Homo sapiens: one gene and its partner. The protein of the gene in region 2 purifies or fractionates together with the protein of the main gene of each other region. This does not show direct contact. Each region holds a gene or a part of one and is shown on either strand. Other genes may lie near its edges.

Region 1 (3,500 bases), on a different chromosome or scaffold from region 2:
AGCAGCCTGGCCAACATGGTGAAACCCCATCTCTACTAAGAATACAAAAATTGGGCCAGGCGTGGTGGCACATGCCTGTATTCCCAGCACTTTGGGAGGCCGACGTGGGCGGATCATGAGGTCAGGAGATCCAGACCATCCTGGCTAACACGGTGAAACCCCGCCTCTACTAAAGAAGTACAAAAAAATTAGCCGGGTGTGGCGGCGGGAGCCTATAGTCCCAGCTACTCAGGAGGCTGAGGCAGGAGAATGGCGTGAACCCAGGAGGCGGAGCTTGCAGTGAGCTGAGATCGTGCCACTGCACTCCAGCCTGGGCAACAGAGCGAGACTCCATCTAAAAAAAAAAAAAAAAAAAAAAAAATTGGCCAGGCATGGTGGTGGGTGCCTGTAATCCCAGCTACTTGGGAGGCTGAGGCAGGAGAATTGCTTGAACCCAGGAGGTGGAGGTTGCAATGAACTGAGATTGTGCCACCAGGCTCCAGCCCGGGCAATACAGCGAGACTCTGTCTCAAAAAAATAAATAAATAAATAAATAAATAAATCGTAATAATAATTATGGATTTGTCTATTTCTACTTTCAACCCTGTCAGTTTTTGCTGTGTGTGGGTGTGTGTGTGTTTTGGTTTTTTGGAGACAGAGTCTCGCTCTATTGCCCAGGCTGGAGTTCAATGTCACAATTATAACTCACTGTAATCTTGAACTCCTGGGCTCAAACCATCCTCCCACCTCAGCCTCCCAAGTAGGTGGAACTATAAGTGGGTGTCACCACACCTGGCTAATTTTTTCAATTTTTTTTGAAAGCCAGTGTGCTGGGATTATAGATGTGAGCTACCATGCCTGGCCTAGAATCTTTTCTGAACTGATTGGTAATGAAAATAGCAACCTATCAAAATTTGTGGGATGCAACTGAAACGATGATTAGAACTTTATCATCGTAAATTTTAAATTAGAAAAGTGTTTAAAAATCTAGAAATTTACCTGAAACTTCTACCTTAAACTAGAAAAAGAGCAAATTAAACTCAAAATGTGTCGAAGGAAGAAACTAATCAAAGAGGGGAATGCACAGAATAGAGTATGGACACGATGGAGAGAATCGGTGAGACCGAAACTTGGTTCTCTCAAAAGACGAGTTGGCAAAAACTCTAGATTGACTGATGGAGGGAAAAAGGGAAGGTCCAGGTACGTTACCATTTTCAGGGATGGGAGAGGAGTGTTCACAGGTACAGATGGTGCAGATAGTAACGGGCGATAAGGAACTTCTTGCTAATAAATTTTCCAGATTAGACAAATGGGCAAGTTCCTTTAAAGATAAAACTTATCTAAATTGACATGTGAAGAAATAAAAAAATCTGAGCCCTTTTATCTATTAAAGATACTGAATTTTTTAAAGTATAAAACATTCCAGGCTAGGGTTGGTGGCTGACACCTGTAATCCCATCACTTTGGGAGGTCAAGGCAGATCCATCACTTGAGCTCAGGTGTGTGAGACCAGCCTGGGCAATGTGGCAAAACCCCATCTCTACAAACAATACAAAAAAACTGTCCAAGTATAGTGGCACTCACCTGTGGTCACAGCTACTCGGGAGGCTGAGACGGGAGGATGGCTTGAACCCAGGAGGTCGAGGCTGCAGTGAGGTGAGATGACGCCACCGTACTCCAGCCTGGGTGACAAAGTGAGACCCTGTCTCAAAAAAAAAAAAAAGACAACCTCAGGCTGGGTGCGGTGGCTCATGCCGGTAATCCCAGCACTGTGGGAGGCCAAGGCGGGTGGACCACCTGAGGTCAGGAGTTCGAGACCAGCCTGGCCGACATGGTGAAACTCCGTCTCTATTAAAAATCACCATTTTTTTTTTTTTTTTTTTTTTTTAGGAAAAATGGACATTTTCCTCTCCCCCTAAAAAAAGATAAAACTCCTTCCTGGTTATTAACTGAAATGCTGATCGAGCTTTATCCTAAAGAAGATCAGTCGTGGACAAGAACCTTGTGAAATGTTCCCCATTTGAGACCCTAAAACTAATGAAAATCACAGCTTTTGGGTAGGTAATAAGGTGTTTTGTTTTGTTTTTTGAGACGGAGTCTTGCGCTGTCGCCCAGGCTGGAGTGCAGTGGCACCATCTCAGCTCACTGCAAGCTCTGCCTCCTGGATTCACTCCATTGTCCAGCCTCAGCCTCCTGAGTAGCTGGGACTACAGGCGCCCACCACCACGCCCGGCAAGTTTTTTTGTATTTTTAGTAGAGACGGGGTTTCACCGTGTTAGCGAGGATGGTCTTGATCTCCTGACCTCGCCATCTGCCCACCTCTGCCTCCCAAAGTGCTGGGATTACAGGCGTGAGCCACCGCGCCCAGCCAGTAATAAGGTTTGTCTGACGGTGATTGACAGCATTTTAGAGCTGATGCATGGCAGTAGAGATTGCAGCAAATCATGTGTCATCACCAAAACTTCACTGAAGAAGCAAAACTAGGCCTGTCACCCGTGCTGTCTGTGTACACAGATGGGCTTCAGAGCCTGTCACACGTGTTGTCCGTGTACACAGATGGGCTTCGGGGCCTGTCATACGTGCTGTTCGTGTACACAGACGGGCTCCTGGGCCTATCACCCGTGCTGTCCGTGTACACAGATGGGCTTCGGGGCCTGTCACACGTGTTGTCCGTGTGCACAGATGGGCTTCGGGGCCTGTCACACGTGTTGTCCGTGTACACAGACGGGCTTCAGAGCCTGTCACACGTGCTGTTCGTGTACACAGACGGGCTCCTGGGCCTGTCACACGTGCTGTCCGTGTACACAGATGGGCTTCGGAGCCTGTCACACGTGTTGTCCGTGTACACAGATGGGCTTCGGGGCCTGTCACACGTGTTGTCCGTGTACACAGATGGGCTTCGGGGCCTGTCACACGTGTTGTCCGTGTGCACAGATGGGCTTCGGGGCCTGTCACACGTGTTGTCCGTGTGCACAGATGGGCTTCGGGGCCTGTCACACGTGTTGTCCGTGTGCACAGATGGGCTTCGGGGCCTGTCACACGTGTTGTCCGTGTGCACAGATGGGCTTCGGGGCCTGTCACACGTGTTGTCCGTGTGCACAGATGGGCTTCGGGGCCTGTCACACGTGTTGTCCGTGTGCACAGATGGGCTTCGGGGCCTGTCACACGTGTTGTCCGTGTGCACAGATGGGCTTCGGGGCCTGTCACACGTGTTGTCCGTGTGCACAGATGGGCTTCGGGGCCTGTCACACGTGTTGTCCGTGTGCACAGATGGGCTTCGGGGCCTGTCACACGTGTTGTCCGTGTGCACAGATGGGCTTCGGAGCCTGTCACACGTGTTGTCCGTGTACACAGACAGGCTCCTGGGCCTATCATGTGTGCTGTCTTTGTAAACAGTCAGGATCCCAGGACTATCACGCGTGCTGTCCATGTACACAGGCAGGCTCCTGAGCCCATCACACGTGCTGTCCGTGTACACAGATGGGCTTCAGAGCCTGTCACACGTGTTGTCCATGTACACA
Region 2 (3,500 bases):
GGGACACACAGCACAATAGATGGAGGGTGGGCACCCACAGACCTGGCAGGGACTGTGACTTGGCCAGTGTTTCTAAGAAAGGGGCTGGGGAGACATTGAAGTGACTCTGCAAGATGGGGCTGAGTGGATACCAGTGACCTGGTGCTCAGGACAGGGCAGCAGAGGGGGTGTGTCAGGGAGGACGCATGCAGGACCACAGTGCTGGCACCATGGGACTTACATGTGCCACGCTAAGTTTGCTCTCCCCATTTAGTAAATAAGCCACGGAAGTGACCACACCTTCAGGCTGCTTCTGAGTGCCACGCCTTCCGACACTGCCACAAGCAAGCCCCTTACCAAAGCAGGCCCAGACATGCCCTGGAGCCCTGCCCCTGAGTGTCCCTGAAGGGCCCTCACTGGCACTACCCTGGGTTCTGACACTCCCAGGACCACCTGACATGTCCACCTCTGCCTGCCTAGGCTATCCACAGAGGAACACTGGCTGCAGCACAGGAGAGGCCGCTTCAGCTGTTTCTCAGGAGTCCCCAGGCATGCTCGCCTTGGATACTACTCCCTTTTAGGGCCTACAAGGCTGCCACACACACAGACATGCCACCTGAGGCGTGCTGACCACTGGTGCCATCCTGCCATCGCAGCACTCACATGGCCTCTCCCTGCCCCAGGAGAGGGTGGCCCCGCATTCATCTAGGCTGCCATTTCTTGTGCTGACCGAGGGCCTCACCAATGGAGGTAGGAACAGCCTCACCCCTCAAAATATAGACCTGGAGATTCTGAGGGCGAGCTGTGTGCCCAGGGCCCCAGAGCAGGTGAGAAGTAGAGCTGAGCTCTGCCTGGGGAGTCTAAGCATGTGGCCTTTCACTGGATCTTCCCATCACCGAGCACTGGGACTGGGGGGTACCAATTAGGGAAGAGGGAGAGGGCAGTGTTCTGGACTTCCTCACACCCTCAGGGGAGGCAAGACTTGATTCCCAGCCCATAGGCTCCTCCCCTTGCTCCCCCAGACCAAGTCCTGCCCAGGAAGCAGGGGTGAAGAAAACCAGGGGCTGATGGCTCCAGAAGGCTCCAGGCACCTGGACTCTAGGCAAGAACAGGCCTGGGAGCTGAGATGGCCCAGCCAGGCAAGGTAGGGGTGGCAATCCCAGTCCCATAGCCTGACTCAGGAATAGTGATGTTGGGGGACAGAGGAACCTGCCAACAGCCAGAAACTCCTCCCCAGAACTGCTGGGTGGGGCCTTGAGCAGCCATACACAGATTTTAGGACTTAGAATATAGATATGGTAATCAAAACTGTGTGGTACCAACATGGGAACAGAACCATGGGCCAACAGGCGAGACCAGAGAATCTGAAATTGATTTGCACAAATAGGCCCAAACAATGTCTGACAAAGGTGCGAGAGCAATTCAAAGGAGGAAGGACAGCCTTTCCAACCAATGGTGCTGGGACAATGGAGCAACTGGGCATCAAAACAACAAACAAAAAACACCTAAACTTCACACCTTATACAGAAAGTAACTCAAAATGGTTTATAGATTTAACTGTAAAACATAAATCTATAAAATATTCAGGAAAATATATAGGAGAAAATCTTTGTGATCTAGGCCAAAGAGCTCTTAGACCTGATACCAAAGGCATGATCCATAAAAGAAAAAAACTGATAAACTGGACTTCATCAAAATTAAAATTTTTCCTTCGGGAAAGGCCCTGCTAAGAGGATGAAAAGATAAGTTACAGGCCAGGAGAAATATTTGCAAGCTGCATATCCAACAAAGGACTAGTATCTAGAACATATAAAGAATTCTCAGCCAGGCACAGTGGCTCACACTTATAATCCCAGCACTTTGGGAGGCCGAGGCAGGAGGACTGCTTGAGCCCAGGAGTTCAAGATCAGTCTGGGCAACAGAGTGAGACCCCCGACTCCTCAAGAAATTTAAAAATTAGCTGGGCGTGGTGGCATGCACCTGTGGTCCCAGCTTTTCAGGAGGCTGCAGTGGAGGGATCACTTGACCCCAGAAGGTGGAGGCTGGGGTGAGACATGATCATGCCACTGTACTCTAGCCTGGATGACAGAGTGAACCATGATTTAAAAAACAAAACAAAACAAAAAAAGAATTCTCAAAACTAAAAAAAAAAAAAATTAAAATTAAAAACTCCAATTAGAAAATAAGCAAAAAACATAAAGAGACACTTTGCCAAAGAGAATATACAGATGGCAAATAAGCATAAGAAAAGATGCTCAGCATCACTAGTCAGTGGGGAAATGCAAATTAAAACCACAGTGAGATATCACTATACATCCATCAGAATGGCTAAAATAAAAAATAGTGACATCACTAAATGCTGGCAAGGAGAAACTGGATCTCTCACACATTACTAGTGGGAATGTAAAATGTACAGCCACTCTGGGAAACAGTCTGGCCGTATCATATGGAACTAAGCAAGCAGCTACCCTACTATGACCCAGCAACTGCACTTGTACGCATTTATCTCAGAGAAATGAAAACTTATGTTCACATAAAAACCTGTACACAAATGTTTATAACTGCTTTATTTGCAAGAGCTATGGAATGGAAACAGCCCAGATGTCCTTCAATGGATGAAGAGTTAAATCAACGGTGGTACATCCATAGCCCGGATGCAATATAAAGGAATGAACTACTGATATATGCAACAACCTGGATGAATCTCCAGAGAATTAATGCTCGGTGGAAAAAGCCAATCCCAAGAGGCTACACGGTGTACGATTCCTTTATTTAGCATTCTTGACACACCAAAATTAGGGAAATGGAGAACAGATTGGTGATTGCCAGGGGTTAAATGTGGGGGTAAAGAGAAAGGTACTAATCTCTTCTCCATTTCTGTAATTTTGGCAGGAGGAAGGTGGGCGTGAATATAAGAAGGCAACAGGCTGGGCACGGTGGCTCACGCCTGTAATCCCAGCACTTTGGGAGGCTGAAGTGGGCAGATCATTTGAGGTCAGGAGTTCGAGACCAGCCTGGCCAACATGGTGAAACCCCAACTCTACTAAAAACATAAGAATTAGCTGGGCAAAAACTAACCGGGCGTAGTGGTGGGCGCCTGTAATCCCAGCTACTCAGGAGGCTGAGGCAGGAGAATCATTTGAACCCAGGAGGTGGAGGTTGCAGTGAGCCGATCGCACCATTGCACTCCAGCCTGGGCAGCAAGAGTGAAACTCCATCTCAAAAAAAAAAAATAGAAGGCAACAGGCTGTAACCTCTTTACTGTATCAGTGTAGTGTCCTGGTGCAATGTTGTACTAGTTTTCCAAGATGTTACCATTGGGGCAAACTGGGTAAAGGACAGAATAAATCTCTCTGTGTCATTTCTTATAATGCACATGAATCTTTAATTTTTTTTTTTTCTTTTTGAGATGGAATCTTGCTCTTTCACCGAGGCTGGAGTGCAGTGGCACGATCTAGGCTCACTGCAACCTCCACCTCCCAGGTTCAAGCGATTCTCCTGCCTCAGCCTCCTGAGTAACT

What was found. The genes of interacting proteins can lie anywhere in the genome.
Region 1: the proteins of ZMIZ2 (region 2) and TCF25 purify together in Homo sapiens (affinity purification with mass spectrometry, with the first as the bait; one large-scale study listed by BioGRID). This does not show direct contact.

The regions. Positions count from the first base shown.
Region 1 is NC_000016.10:89,876,592-89,880,091, forward strand, and holds part of TCF25 (ribosome quality control complex subunit TCF25), read left to right. Parts: intron 1-3,500. UniProt on the Homo sapiens protein: Component of the ribosome quality control complex (RQC), a ribosome-associated complex that mediates ubiquitination and extraction of incompletely synthesized nascent chains for proteasomal degradation.
Region 2 is NC_000007.14:44,751,847-44,755,346, reverse strand, and holds part of ZMIZ2 (zinc finger MIZ domain-containing protein 2), read right to left. Parts: intron 1-3,500. UniProt on the Homo sapiens protein: Increases ligand-dependent transcriptional activity of AR and other nuclear hormone receptors.